Linked DNA regions of Homo sapiens. The protein of the gene in region 2 purifies or fractionates together with the protein of the main gene of each other region. This does not show direct contact. Each region holds a gene or a part of one and is shown on either strand. Other genes may lie near its edges.

Region 1 (7,858 bases), on a different chromosome or scaffold from region 2:
TTCCAGAGCCAGCCCCTCCCTTCCCCCACCACCTCAAATCCAGGCTCCAAGCTGGCAAACACCCACGGGAGGGCATTTCCCACAATCCCTTTCTCTTTGCCCTTTCAAGGTTCTGATGGGGGAGGGGAGGAAGAGGGGCCACCAGATGCACTCTCTCCCTAAAGAATGGTGGCAAACATGTAGGCTAAACTCAAATGAGGGAAGAAAAGCATTGAACTCAGCCTGCTGGAGAGACCGAAGTGACATGGCAAACTCCCATTCCCAGGAGCTGCCCAGCCAACCACCCACCATTGGGTGCTAAAACACTTAGATTTTAAATCTCCCTTTCCTCTCCAATCTTTCTGTAGTTTCATCTCAACGATGTGCCTTGGCTGATTCCTTCTCTGCCCCCTTCCAGGGCCCCACTGCTATCCTGGACAGCTTGGCCTCAGCCTGGACAGTAGCACTGACCAGTCAGGCAAGAGAAGAATCTAGGCCGAGGAGGGGAGGGAGAGTGGAGGTTTTTTTCTTCCGTCCTAAATAACCTGTGGCTGGAAAGCTTAGGGACTCCATTGCCCAATGTCTCTTTTCCTCCCCACCAATGCCAGGAGGCTCGGCCTATCTTTCCATCTTGTGTGCAGAAACCAAGAGTTTTACCAGGAGGCTCAGGAGTATCCTTTGAGGAAACAGATCTTTCTGCATGACCCACCCCCTAGAGCTTTAAACCCCCTATCCTGCCAATCACAGAATGACTCCAGAGGACTTCATCTGAGCCCACCGTGATCCAAGTGTCCCAGCCTCTCTGGTCCCAAGGAAGGTCAAGGGAAGGAAGGTCCCCGGGTCCTCTGCCAGTCACTTCCTTGTAGCTCAAGCCAACCAAGCTGGAGCTGTAAATGAGCTTATGCACAGTGATGCAGGTGGGAGGGAGCTAGAATGTGGTTCAATGGGGCACACGGAGGAGGTAGGGGATACCAGCGGGCAGATCATTAATCCCCTCACACAAACATATGCACCCATAGACTGGATGTGGGTCAGATGTTGGGGAAGATGGATTTATTTTTTCCTCAGGGTAAGGGATAGCAGAGGGGTTCTGCATTAGAGCCACAGAGGGGCTGGAACCATAACCCTGCTACCCCTGCCACTCCCACTCCCCACCCACCCTCCATCGGTGGAGTCATTGCCATTTGATATCCGCTGAGACAACTTGGCTGCTCAGGCTCTGAGTGGGGGGTGGGGGGATGGCTCAGAAAACAGCAGCTCCTTTCAGGACCCAGGTTGGCAAGGGCTTTGGGAGGCTGGACCAGCCCAGATCACCCCCCAACACCCTCTCCCTCCCTTCCTCCCTTGCCACCACCACCAAAGGACTGGGGGAAGGCAGCGGGGAAAGGAGTTGGCACTGCCTGGGCCGTGCCTATTGCCTCCACAATCCAGCCCTGGACCCTCTCCCTGGCATGATGCCTTCCATCCCCCTCCTCCCTCGTTTCTTCCTCCCTGAAGAACCAGCTATGAGTCAGGATGCCTGGTTCCTTCCAAACTTGGTCCCCTATACCCAGTCTACCCCCAGAGAAATTTACAAGCCCTACCACTTGGCACAGGATGGTACCCACCATCATGCCAGGAATATGTTCAAAAATCCTTGGAGATTAGGGAGAGAGTTTCAGGATGAAACTAAATTGAACTCACTGGTGGCTGCCCACCCCTCCTGGGGCTAATTTCATGACAACCACTCCAGGCCCTCCTCAGCACCCTTAAACAAGGCCATCTCTCACATGGGGGCCCTAAATCTCCTGTCATTATCTCCCTCCCACCCAGGCAGCCTAAAGCAGTCCCAGTGGGGAGAAAAAAAATTCAAACACCACAGCAAGAGCAGACTGGCCAGACATCTTTAGTCAGAATTTGTATTGGTAAGCAACAGAAGCAGGCTTTAAGCACTGGCCTCTTTGGGGTCCAAATCTGCACCAGCTTCTTCCCCATCTGCCTCACCCTGCCTGGGGCACTCACTGGAATTAAACTTCAAGACACCAGAACCCACCCTCACTTTTTCCCAGTGTTGTCCTTCTACCCATTCCTGGGTTCAGCTCTCCTCCCCCAAATCAGGAAGTTCCATCCTTCATCTGTTCCCTAACACAGGTGCCCTGGGTTAGTTCTGATGAGAGGAGGAATGGAATGGGAAGGGGCGTCTCCATCTGGAGGGTGAGTTTATAGAACCCAATCTGCCCTTCTCACTCTAGCAGAAGTGGCCCTGCTCCTTTCCTTCTGGAAATCCCAGTGCGAAACAGCTGGGGTGAGGGTGAGGGGCCATGAGGAGGGATGTCTTAAAATGGGAGCCACTCAGAATAGAAGGAAGAGATTGGGTGGGCAGGGGTCTGGAGCACACCAGGCTTTGGTGGCTCCCCGGTTTAAGCTGCCAGTATCTGTTTTTCTCCCCATGTGGGAACTAGCGATCATGGGTGTCACTATGTGATTGTCACTGTATGGGGAGTGGGGGAGGGGCTGGGGATGGGAGTAACCTGTCCATATGGGGAGGAGGGCGCACTGTCTGTTGTGCCTGTGTATGGGGTGCCTGGTTATGTGTGGTTGTCACTGTATTAACTAGAGGAGCAGGGATGCAACTGCTGGTCTGCCCAGTGGGAGGGGGCATCGGGAAAGCCCCTTCCTTAGATGAAAGGGCTGAGGTGACCAGCCTGGCTAGTTTCCTCGTGGGGAGCCCTTCCCAGGAGGCTCCATTTGGGACTGCCCAAGGCGGGAGGCAGGGGAACAAGACGGTGGTACCGCTGAGGCCAGGCAGGGTAGGGACTGAGGATCTGGGACCCCGATGTCTCTGGAGAGTTAGGGGGACAGGACCCGGCCGGGGCGGCAGAACTCCTTCATCAGGGCCAGGGTCTTACCTTGGGTCCGAGGTGGAGTGGCCCCTTGGATGGGCCGCGGGGCAGCGGGACAGATGGACGGACGGGGCGGGCAGGAGTTAGGAGCAGAGCTGTGCGACGGGCCGGGCCAGGACTCTTAAACCCGGAGCTGGGATCAGATAAGGGCTTGTCCGGGGGCCGGGGCCGGGGTCGGGCCGGCCGGGGGCAGAGCTGGGCCGGGCCGGGCCGCCCCCTCCCTCCGCAGCGCCGGAGCCAAACTTTGTGTGAATGGAGGGGCCCGGAGGGGGGCCGGGCAGGCGGGGGCGGGGGGCTCCGAACAGACCAATGGGAGAGTGGAGCGCCAGGCTCGAGCCGCCGAGATTGGAGGGTCTTGGGCAGGGGGCGGGGCGTGCGGGGCAAGGAAGCGGAGACCCAGACAGCTGCAGGCGCAGAGAGAAATATCCAAAGACAGAGACCCAGACAGACCCGGGGAGAAAGAGAGATGAAGAGACGATATGCGAAACGATAGGAGCTGAGCTGGCAGGGTGACAGGGGAAGGGAGAAGGAAGAAAAGGGAGGCGGTCCTGTCAGCGATGGGTTACGAGAGCTGGAGCCGGGGGGCGGGACTGGGACCGAGTTAACGAAGTGGAAATGAATTCAGGACCGGCCCAGTGGCCCTGCAGGCAGCGCCGAAGGCGGCGCCTGGAAGTGAGATTGGGGCGGAGTAGGCCTGGGCTCCCTGAGCCACAGGACTGTATCTTTGGGCACAATTCCCGTGTTGTTCACCGTCTCCTAAGTCCCCGGTGCGGTGCTGGGTGAGAGACGCGCAGCACACGGTGCCCACCTGCAGCGGCTTTCTCTGTAAGGAAAGATAAGGCCGGAACCCTCAGCGAAGTGCGGGAGGTACTGAAGGCTGTAAAAGGGAGAGGTCATTCTACTCAGAGGGCTCCTAGCAGATGTGGGAGGAAAGAGGTAACATCTGATTAGGGTCCCAAAGGAAGCAGAAGATTCAGGTGCTGAGAGATGGTCCCCAGGACTCTGTTGCATTTAAGGCAGAGGGAACAACGTAGCAGAGTCCTGGGGAGACGTGAAAATACAAGTTCACTTGGGAAACAGCATCAAACTGTCCCATTTACTAGATTAGAGTGCAGGGTGATGGTTCTCAACCCTTTCATCACCAAAGATTTCTTTAATTTTCTGAATCTATGTGTTGAGAGGTTTTAATTCACCCCCACCCCCAGCATTTATTTAAAAAGAATATAATTATTTCCTCATTTCTGATCATCATAAACATTTAACTGCTAATCAATAACCAGTGTTACCATATTGAATTGCTATAAATTCAGGTAAAAAAAGGAAAGAAACTAGGAATGTAGCTTAGTTTAACCACTAAAAGCCATAAGATAAGTAAATGTCCATTCAAATAGCCTCATTGGAGAAGCTGGAAGGACGGGACTAAAGGTTAGGCACCATAGGCAGTGTTTGTGTTAAGGGGAACATCCGGAAGAAACACAGAGTTGTGCTGATTTGTGGTCAGGCCAGAGTTTCTGTAGGCTACGGAGAGCAATTGAAGGTTCTTGGGAAGGATGGAGTAGGAGAAAGCTATGGCATTTTAGGAAAATTAATCGGGAGGTGACAAAATAGTTTGAACCAAGTGGATATAGTAGGCAAGTAGACGATAGAAAATAATTGCAATAATATAAGCATGAAGAGATGACAGCCCAAATCAGCGTGGCAATGGTGAAAAGTGGAACACAGAAAATGAATTGGAGTACAGAAAAATCAAAAGAAAATGAAAAAAGTTTGAAGCCAACTTGACATGTTGAGCAAAAGAGGGAAGCTTCAGAGATCATACTAGAGTCTCAAGTCAGGTGATCAGAACTGCGAGGTCATTCACGGGCATAGGGGAGCCTGGGGGGGATCACACCTGGTGAGGAGACTGAGGTGGGGGAAGAGGAAGTGATGAGTTCAGAGCTGGAAGCTGTGGAGAGGGGTCAGAACCAGAGAGAGAAAGGAGGTCATTGCTGCCAGGGCAGTGTGAGTTGAAGCTATGAGAACAGGGTAGATCCCAACAAAGACTGCACAGAGAAATGAGAGCCTGGCACAGAGAGTGAGGAACACCTATGTTTAGGGGATGGGAAGAAGAAGGACCCCCAAAGAGTGAAAGAGAATCCACCAGACAGGCAGGAAGGAGACAAAGAAAGTGAGATGTCATGGAGCTAAGGAAGGAGAGACTGTTAAGGAGGAGGTTCTAACAGTGCCAACAAGTACAGAGAGAAGAGGCATTGGGTTTGGCAGTGACAAAGTCTCTAGTGACATTTGAGAGCAATTTCAGAAGAGTGAGCAAGGTGGGAACCAGATTACAAGTTACCACTAGAAAGTGAGAAACTGTCAGCAAGTATAGGTTACACTTTTGAGAACTCTACTCATAGAGAGGAGAGAAATAGAAACCAGACAATGTACTAGAAACAGGCCAGGCCAGGTGGCTCATGCCTGTAATCCCAGCACTTTGGGAGGCCAAGGTGGGTGGATCACCTGAGGTCAGGAGTTTGAGACCAGCCTGGCCAACATGGCAAAAACCCATCTCTACTAAAAATACAAAAATTAGCCGGGCCTGGTGGCACGCGCCTGTAATCCCAGCTACTTGGGAGACTGAGGCATGTGAATCGCTTGAACCTGGGAGGCAGAGGTTGCAGTGAGCCGAGATCACGCCACTGCACTCCAGCCTGGGGGACAGAGCTAGACTCTGTCTCCAAAAACAAAACAAAACAAAACACAAAATAAAAAGAAAAAGAAACAGTCTTCCAGTTTTTCTTCTTCACACTCCGAATGCCCTCTCTTCCTAAGTCAATATGGATGAGGGGCTGTGGTGAGGTGGTCTGAGGGCCAGCCTGCAAGACTGGTATAAGACCTTTAAGTTTCAAAAAATAGGACATCCAAAAGATCCTTAAGGGGGCCACAGTCTTGACATTCACAGACAGAGAGGACTTAGGCAGGGGTGTCCAATTTTTTGGTTTCCCTGGGCCACATTGGAAGAAGAAGAATTGTCTTGGGCCACACATAAAATACACTAACACTAACAGTAGCTGATGAGCTTTAAAAAAAAAAAATCACAAAAAAAACCCTCATGATGTTTTAAGAAAGTTTACAAATTTGTGTTGGGCCTCATTCAAAGCTGTCCTGGGCTGCATGCAGCCCACAGGCGGTGGGTTGGACAAGCTTAGCTTGGAGGCTCTGGTGGAACTCCAAAATAAACATGAAGAACACCACAGAAGAGAAAGCAAAGGGACTGTAATGATTTATGGATCATTAACAGACATTTATTGTGCACTTATTATTTTTCCAAAAATGTTATCCATCCATTTAGCTTCAACTACCACCCATGTGTCAATATGTCCAGCCCACCCGGATATCCATTTCAAACTCAACATATTTAAAGTCGAACATGTCACCTTGCTCACAAGAGTGCTCCTCTCCATTTATTCTCTACCATGGTAGATACACTATCATCACCCAACCAGAAACATGGCAGCCATCCTAGATTCTTCAATCTTCCTCACCTCATCTCCCTTATTGAATCAATGCATCTGTATTCTAAATAGCCTCAATATTGTCCCCTTCCTCTCTATTCCACTATCATTGCTGTAGTCTAGGACACCATTACCTCTCACCAGGTAATAATAGTTTGGATCTTTGATCCTGCTCAAATTTCATGCTGGATTTTAATGCCAATGCTGGACATGGGCCTGGTGGGAGGTGTTTTGATCATGGGGGCAGGTCCCTCAGCGGCTTGGTGCTATCTTCATGATAGTGAGTTCTCGTGAGATCTGGGTGTTTAAAAGTATATGGCAACATCCCCCATCATCAACTCTCTCTTGCTCCTGCTTTTGCCATGTGATGTGCCTGCTCCTGCTTTGCCTTCCACCACAAGTAAAAGCTTCCTGAGGTCTCCTGAGAAGCTGAGCAGATGTCAGCACCATGCTTCCTGTAAATCCTGCAGAACTGTGTGCCAATTAAACCTTTTTTCTTTATAAATTACCCACTCTCTGGGTTTTTTTTTTTTTAATTTTTAATCTTTTTTTTTTTTTTGAGACAGGGTTTCACTCTGTCCCCTAGGCTGGAGTGCAGTGGTGTGATCACAGCTCACTGCAACCCTGAACTCCTGTGCTGAAGTAGTCTTCCTGCCTCAACCTCAAACGTAGCTGGAACTACAGGTGTTCACCATTACACCCAGCTATTTTTTTTTTTTTTTAACTTTCAGTAGAGACGAAGAATCGCTATGTAGATCAGGATGGTCTTGAACTTGTGAGCTCAAGCAGTCCTCCCACCTCAGCCTCCCAAAATGCTGGATTACAGGCTTGAGCCACCATGGCCTATCTCAGGTATTTCATTATAGCAATGCAAGAATGGCCTAATACACCAGGGCTACTGCAGCAGCCTTCTAACTACTCTCCCTGCCTCCAGTCTTCCTCCACTCTAATAATTCTTTGGATTATGAATTTCTTTATTTGAAAGTAATTAAGCACCAGTAAAGTACATCTCTCTGAAACACACATCTGACCGTACCACTTCCAAGTTTTAAAACCTTCAGTAACTGCCAACTATCTATAAGTAAAGTCCGAGTTCCTTTCCCTGGAAGAGAAGGCCTATTATAACCTGGACCTGGTGCCATTCCAGCCTTATCTTCTTCCACTGCCCCTATACACCCAAAGCTACAGCTACTTCTTTTAACACTCAAGGTTCAGCCTTATGTTCTCTTTCTGTGTCTTGCCCCTTGAGCCTTTGTCATTTACATAGCTCCAACGATTGTCCCTGAGTGATGCCCAAATCTCTATCTTCAATCCTACACTCTTTTTGGAGCTCCATATTTCTAGTTGCTTGCAGGGGATTTCCATCTTGACTTGACAGGCCCCAAACTGAACTCAGTACCTTCCTCCCCAAAGGTGGAAGTGCTCGTGACTTCCTTAGTTCTGTGTTACTCCTGGTCAATTAGAATAAAAAACTACAAGTGACCTTTACTCTTCACCGTTGCC
Region 2 (7,299 bases):
GGCCTTGGCACTGTGTAAGTTTCTAAAAACACAACATGAAGCTTTGGGAGGATGTGGGGCACAGGTCCCAGTCCCCTGAGGGCAGATGCTGCCAGCTCTGGCAGGACGCAGCCGCAGGCTCAGAATCAACACGCAATTCCCTGCACAGGCGTCTGCAGAGCAAGGTTCAGGCCTGCTTCATCAGTAATTCTCAAAGGTGATGAACTCTACGTGAAACTAAAGTCATATGAAGAGTTTTTTGTTTTTTTCTTGTTGTTGTTGTTTTGAGACGAAGTTTCACTCTCATTGCCCAGGCTGGAGTGCAGTGGCACAATCTGGGCTCACTGCAACCTCCGCCTCCCAGGTTCAAGCGATTCTCCTGCCTCAGCCTCCTGAGTAGCTGGGAGTACAGGCACCCACCACCGCGCCCAGCTAATTTTTGTATTTTTAGTAGAGATGGGGTTTGTCCATGTTGGTCAGACTGGTCTCAAACACCTGACCTCAGGTGATCCACCCACCTCCACCCCTCAAAGTGCTGGCATGACAGCCATGAGCCACTGTGCCCGGCCCATATGAAGAGGTTTGAATGAGGTACAGGTGACAGAAACCTGCACATCTCAGAACAAAGAAACCAGAGCACGTGCCGGCGAGCTTGGGCACTGGCAGAGGCGTGGAGGAAGCTGCTTACAGAGCCTGCAGCACAGCGCAAGTAATCCATCTCAGCCGGGAACACGTTCCCCAGGTACAGCGAAAACCCCGAGGTCACCAGGAGGCAGCTCTGCAAGACAGCGACAGAATCCCAGGTTACAACGCGCCCCGTCCCCAGGCTGGACCCTGACCCTTCAACTTCTGCTTCACTGTCTGTGTATTGGTGACTCACCCACGTCCCCCAGCATCAACCACACCCGCACCTGGGACCCGCCCATCCTGGACTCCTCCTGTAGGACAGACGCAGCCCCGCCGCAGCCCAGGACATGGACCAGCCTCCCCCAGCCATGTCGGAGCATGGACCCCCCACGCTGTTATCTGGAGGAGAGAAGAAAGGGGATCTGCCAATATTTAGAGCAAGGAATGGCACCTCTCCCCACAAAATACTCCTGCCCCAACATGTTGTGCGTGCAGTCTTCCAGATCCCACACCCAGGTCCAGACACGAGACTGGAAAACAACTGCCCATCCCCCTCCGTCTGCAGAACCTAATTTCCAGATCTGGAAGAAGATCCCTCCAGGCAGGGGCTCCAGGCCCAGGGGCTCCTGAGCAGGGAAGACCCTAGCAGGAGGCAGGGAGGGTGCTCTCTCTCACGCACAGCACTGCAGGGGTGCGGTGGGGAGGGGGCTCTCTCTCACGCACAGCACCCCCGGGGTGAGTCTGAGGGGAGTCAGTATCAAAGGTCACTGGGACCCAGGGTCCTGGCAGAGGAAGCGAGGTCTGGGGCAGAGGGGATCTGGCCTGGGCGGGGGAGGGGCTGCGACCAAGTCCAGGGCACCAGGTGGAGGAGGGCAGAGCCCGGAGATGGCCACCACCACCCGGGAGCCGCCTCTGTCCCCAGCTCCGAGGCAGACGCCTGTCTTGGTGGGGCATGCTCAGGCCACGGGAGGTGGGCAGGACCACTGTGGGTGCTGCAGGGGCTGCCGGCGGAGGCCAGGGCACAGGGAGGGGAGAAATCACAGCCTGGATCTCATTCTCAGCCCAAGCTACACGGAACCGGGGGTCCCTGCATAGAGGCCTGTCCTGCAGCATGGCTCTGAGCAGCTGCACACACTCAGGCCCAAGTGGCTCCTCCAATCATCTCTGTGCCCACGACTGTGCAGGGAATGGCCAGGACCCCAGGGAAATCCCTCGGACATCTGGCGCTGCCCGTCCACCCCAGACCTGTTCCTTTGTTCCCCAGCTCCCTCCCAGCCGGCCCCTGAGGCCCTCCCTAGGAGGAGGAGGTCCCTGAGGTTCTCTCTGTGAGGGCCGACCTGAAGGCCTGAGACGCCTCCTCCCACCTTTGCAGGTGACCCCTCAGAGGACCCTGGGCCCCCAGAGCCGAGGGTCATGGAGACTCCTGGGGCCCATTCATGGCCCTGGGACTGTCCCTACCCTGGTGGGACTAAGCCACAACCTGGAGCAGCTCAAGGCTGGCACAACAGACACCCATAAATTAATAAAAATAATTGTGAAAACACAAGCAAAACAAGCTCGTCGGCATCCAAGAGTTCTGCAGCAGCAGGGTTAGTCTGAGAGTTGCTCTCTCTGTCCCACCTGGGGCTCCAGGGCGCTGCAGTCCGTCACCAGAGGGACCAGATGCTCGTGGCCCTCCAAGGGCTTAGTGTGGAGCTACTCACCCCCATCAGCACAGAGAAGACCCACGTCTTGTGGCTGAAGCAGGGGGGCAGTCTCTTCGACAGCTGCAGGTCGCTCGGCTTCGCGTCTGGGGCATAGCTGGCGGGGTCTTGCCGGCCCCGCTCCAGCGTGGGCATCCGGTCATAGGCCAGCTCCTCTCTGAATGGCTCCTGGGTCATGGCACTTGGGGACACCACAGCTGTGCTGAATGTACAGCCACGTGTCACCAGTTCTTTATCTGGAATAAAATTATCATCGGCTTTGGCCACTCTGAGGAAACTTCAATAAGTTGTTTCCAAGAAATATTTTTTAACAAAAGAAATATTGTTCATACTGAAGTGCTCTAAATTTGAAGAAGAAAATGAGCACTTGAATCTAAAAGTGAAAAAGAAATAACTTTCCTAGAAAAACGGACCTGAATAGTCTGGGTTCAGGGTGAGATTCTACACTTTAAATGCCTCATTGATCCATCTGGGCCCTCCAGGTGCAACACCTGACAACATCCATCGGCAACTTCGTCCATGAACACATCACGCCGGGGACTCAAGCACGTTAAACTGCTCCAATTGGTAGCTAAACGAGAGATTGCAAAACATGCCTCTACTCAACGGCTTAATGTCTGAGCACTTACCTCCCCCGCTGCTCTGCCGTTGGGAGCACTGGTCTCTGGGTGAGGGACTTCCAGCAAGAAGTATTCACAAATGAAACAAAAGCTCAGCAAACTTGAGCTGAAGGCAGGGGAAGGAGAGCTGCTTCCTGAATATCAATGAGGGGAGGAATCGGGTGGATCGTAGAAATGTTTCGTGTTGGTTGTGTAAACCACTGCCTCGGAGCTGTCAGAACCCAACTAGGAAAGGAAGGGGCCCTGCCTGTGCCACTCGCCACAGAGCTCGGGTCTCTCAGAAGAAAGAAGCGTCCCTAAGAATAGAATCCCACCAAGTACACATTCTGAGCAGGCTCTGTTTCTGAAACGTAACTGTTTACTCGAAGGTCTTCTACATCTTTCCAAGTAGCCTTTTTCCATCCCCCACAGCCACACGGTGGGAACCTCCTTCACACGGTCACATAAGCATTCACGCACTCGGCTTAGCTGTGTGGCCTTGGGCGGCTCCGGATTCGGCCCTGTGGTTTGCGTGGGCAGCCCGGATGGCTGGTGGGCCCGGTCCTGCTGCCCCCTTTATCTCTGCTCACCAAGCAGAGAAAAACCACAGTAATGTGTGTCGCCCAGAGACACTGGCACCCTGACAACTACAGCAACGGGTTCTTTGTGCACATTGTAAAAAGGCTCAAACTAAAGTTTCTGAAAAACCAGCTCCTTAAACCATGAACCCACATTAAAACTTGAGCAAAGTCATCAGGTTCCAGACCATGGGATGTTCTGTTGTCTTCGTTTCAATCAAGCAAGAAGCTTTTAGTAAGCTTTTATTAGCTTTTAGTAAGTTTTTATTAGCTTTTAGTAAGATTACACATACAAGCATCCCTGTCCCAGTGAAAATGCCCACTAAATCACCTCGATCAAAATGCGTAAGTGTCAAGTACGCATAAATGCAGCTCAAAACACTTTGCTCAACCTCACCCCCACAGGAAACAGCAGTGATAAATTTTTAGCAATAAACGAAAGTTTAAGCTATACTAGTATTTTAGGGTTAGTTAATTTTGTGCCAGCCACCACAGCCAATGTTCTGTTGTCTTCATTTCAATCAAGCAAGGATGAGAAATAATTTTCAAAAACTATAATCTGTGAAGTCAAGAACTCATTTTAATGGATTGAGAAACCTCCCAAACTTCACTATCTTTTAAAGCGATAAACGGGATTAGTGGGAGTGGGTCCAACTGGATCGAATCCTCCTGTGTTTCTTTTTGTTTGGAAAAAAATGTTAATCGGATTTCAACATTTTTTTCTTTCAAAAGTTGCTCTCCACTTAGAAATACAAACAAGCTGCCCTGAACCAGAGGTTGCAGAGCAAATCCCTCAGCTTCCCAGATCATAAGTCATCACTTGAGAAATGCTCCCAAGTTTCTGTTGGCAACACTAGTTTCTAGAACAGGCCCTGTTCTTTCATACAATCTTCCAACAAATTCTTGCTCCTAAAATGCCCTTCATCCCTCTGCCTGCTGATGTCCCATCATCATTCAACATTCAACAAACATTTATGGGGTGGACAAAGAAGTGACGTCCTTCCTATAGGCTGTTTACATTCATTGGGGGCACAGGAGTGCACAGGATAAACAAATTAGTGTGTTATACAGTGATATGGTTTGGCTGTGTCCCCACTCAAATCTCATCTTGAATTGTAATTCCCATAATTCCTACATGTCGTGGAAGGGGCCCGGTGGGAGGTAATTGAATCATGGGGGTGGTTACCCCCATGCTGCTGTTCTCCTGACAATGAGTGAGGTCTTATGAGATCTGATGGTCTTTTATAAGGGGCTTTCCCCGCTTTTGCTCAAGACTTCTCCTTCCTGCCACCTTGTGAAGAAGGACATGTTTGCTTCCCCTTCCACCATGATTGTAAGTTTCCTGAGGCCTCCTCAGCCCTGTGGAACTGTGAGTCAATTAAAGCTCTTTCCTTTATAAGGACTTGACTCTAAAATTACCCAGTCTTGGGTATGTCCTTATAGCAGCGTGAGAACAGACTAATGCATCCAGTGACACACATGATTTCCTCTATGAGGGAAAAGAAGTCAGGGGAGAGAAATGAGGGGCTGCTGTTTGCAGGGGCCAGGGCAGGCCTCAGTGAGAAGGAGGCAGGGAGGGGAGGCTGGCAGAGTTGAAGCAAAGGCCACAGGTTGGGGAAGGCAGGCGAGGACCATGCAAGGGGGATACAGGTAGGACAGCCAGGTGCCAGCACCTGTGGGTATGGAGACGACTCTGCTTCAACTCTGAGACAGACCTGCTGGAGGGGTCTGGGCAGAGCAGCATCCGGTCACTCACTGGGTGGAGAGCAGGCTGGGGGGTGGGAGGAGCAGGTGCTGCCTGGCATTGAGGTGGCAGTGGGCAAGTGGTGAGGAGGGACTGGGCTCTGAACAGGGTTTGAAGAGCGGACGCAATCTGCTGTCAGGGCGACGTTGCTGAGTTCTGTCTGAGCAGTGAGGACAGAGATGAGAAGACCAGGGTGGAGCAGGTGTGGAGCGAGGATCTGGAGTTCCATTCTGGACATGATGAGGCCGAGATGTCTGTGGGCATCTGCCGGGTCTACTGAGTCCAGAATCCCAGGGAGTGGCCCGAGCTGGGGAGCTGAGGGGCAGCCCTGCAGGCACAGCACCCGCTGCGAGCTGCCCTGGCAGGGAGCCCATGAGCCACCAGCCCTCATGCAGCTCGCTCTTGTTTCCAAGCTAATCTCCCACCAACCAGTAGGTCCCTGGGACCCTGCTGGCTCCTGTATGTGTTCCAGCACCCAGCCCAAGACACAGGCTTAGCGGGGATTTGAAATGCTAGGGAGTGCGCCACTCTCTCCCTTCCCACAGCAAGAACTATCAGTACACTCTGCATCCATGGACAGGCAAGGTCCAGGCTGTCATCAGACTGACAGATCTGACCTAGGAAAATAAAGCTATGTCAATCAAAAATAAGTCGGGGCTGGGCGCAGTGGCTCACACCTGTAATCCCAGCACTCGGGAGGCCAAGGCGGGTGGATCACCTGCGGGTCAGAAGTTCGAGACCAGCCTGACCAACATGGTAAAACCTTGTCGCTACTAAAAATACAAAAAAAAAAAAAAAAAAAAAAAAAAAAAAAAGCCAGCGTGGTGGCGCACGCCTGTAATCCCAGCTGCTCTGGAGGCTGAGGCAGGAGAATCACTTGAACCCGGGAGGTGGAGGCTACAGTGAGCTAAGATCATGCCACTGCATTCCAGCCTGGGCGACGGAGCAGGACTCCATCTCAAAAAAAAAAAAAAAGAAATAATAAAAAACAGAAACCACTGGAATAGTAAAGATATATATACGTATTTTGTTTTTGTTTTTGTTTTGAGGCAGAGTCTTGCTCTGTCTCCCAGGCTGGAGTGTAGTGGTGTGATCTCAGCTCACTGCAACCTCCACCTCCTGGGTTCAAGTGATTCTTCTGCTTCAGCCTCCCAAGTAGTTGGGATTACAGGCATGCGCCACCATGCCTGGCTAATTTTTTTTGTATTTTTTTGTAGAGACAGGATTTTGGCAGGTTGACCAGGCTGGTCTCGAACTCCTGACCTCAAGTGATCTGCTCACCTTGGCCTCGCAAAGTGTAAAGATATTTTTAAAATAGAGAAAAATCAATGAAATCAAGGGATGATTTTTTTTAAAAACTCAATAAAATTGATAAATATAGACTGATCAAGGAAAATGAGAGGGATGAGATAAATTACCTATGTCAAGAATGAAAGATGGCTCATCATTATGGACCATACAGACGTTAAAAGGATAATAAGGAAATATGCTGAACAACTTTATGCCAATAATCTGACATCTAATAATTGGATGAAATGGACAAATTCCTTAAAAGAATTACCAAAGTTTATTCAATATTACCTTGATAACTTGAATAGCCCTCTAGCTGATGCAGAAGTGAATTTCTCATTAAAAACCTTCCCACAAAGAAATCTCGAAGCCCAAATGGGTTCCCCAGCGAATACTACCACAATTTTTAGGGAATAAGTTACCCCATCCTACTCCCAGGTCACTGCAGGCCCGGCTTAAACCGACCCCAAACCAGACAGACACAGAAAACGGGAGGTCGGCCACAGAGCAATCTGCTTCACCAGCACCGTCCCCAACCTTGGACAAAGCGTTACCAAGCTGAGTCAGGCAATACACCAAAAGGATAACGAATCGTGACCAAGTGAGTTTTCCAAGGAGAGCCAAACAATGTAATTCCCTATGGGCTGAAATAAAAAGCTACAGGATCATTTGAATACATGCAGAAAAGCGTTGCAGAAAATTTCACACCCACTCATAAGAACTCTTGGAAAAACAGGAATAGAGGGAACTTCCTCAACTTGATAAAAAACACCAACAAA

The links. The genes of interacting proteins can lie anywhere in the genome.
Region 1: the proteins of MLC1 (region 2) and KCNJ10 purify together in Homo sapiens (affinity purification with western blotting, with the first as the bait; 2 studies listed by BioGRID). This does not show direct contact.

What each region holds. Positions count from the first base shown.
Region 1 is NC_000001.11:160,067,155-160,075,012, forward strand, and holds the start of KCNJ10 (ATP-sensitive inward rectifier potassium channel 10), read right to left. Parts: upstream 3,007-7,858; 5' UTR 2,868-3,006; intron 1-2,867. UniProt on the Homo sapiens protein: May be responsible for potassium buffering action of glial cells in the brain. Inward rectifier potassium channels are characterized by a greater tendency to allow potassium to flow into the cell rather than out of it.
Region 2 is NC_000022.11:50,082,417-50,089,715, forward strand, and holds the start of MLC1 (membrane protein MLC1), read right to left. Parts: upstream 3,011-7,299; 5' UTR 2,939-3,010; exon of another isoform or gene 2,546-2,938; 5' UTR 2,487-2,545; coding exon 2,310-2,486; intron 758-2,309; coding exon 668-757; intron 1-667. UniProt on the Homo sapiens protein: Transmembrane protein mainly expressed in brain astrocytes that may play a role in transport across the blood-brain and brain-cerebrospinal fluid barriers. Regulates the response of astrocytes to hypo-osmosis by promoting calcium influx.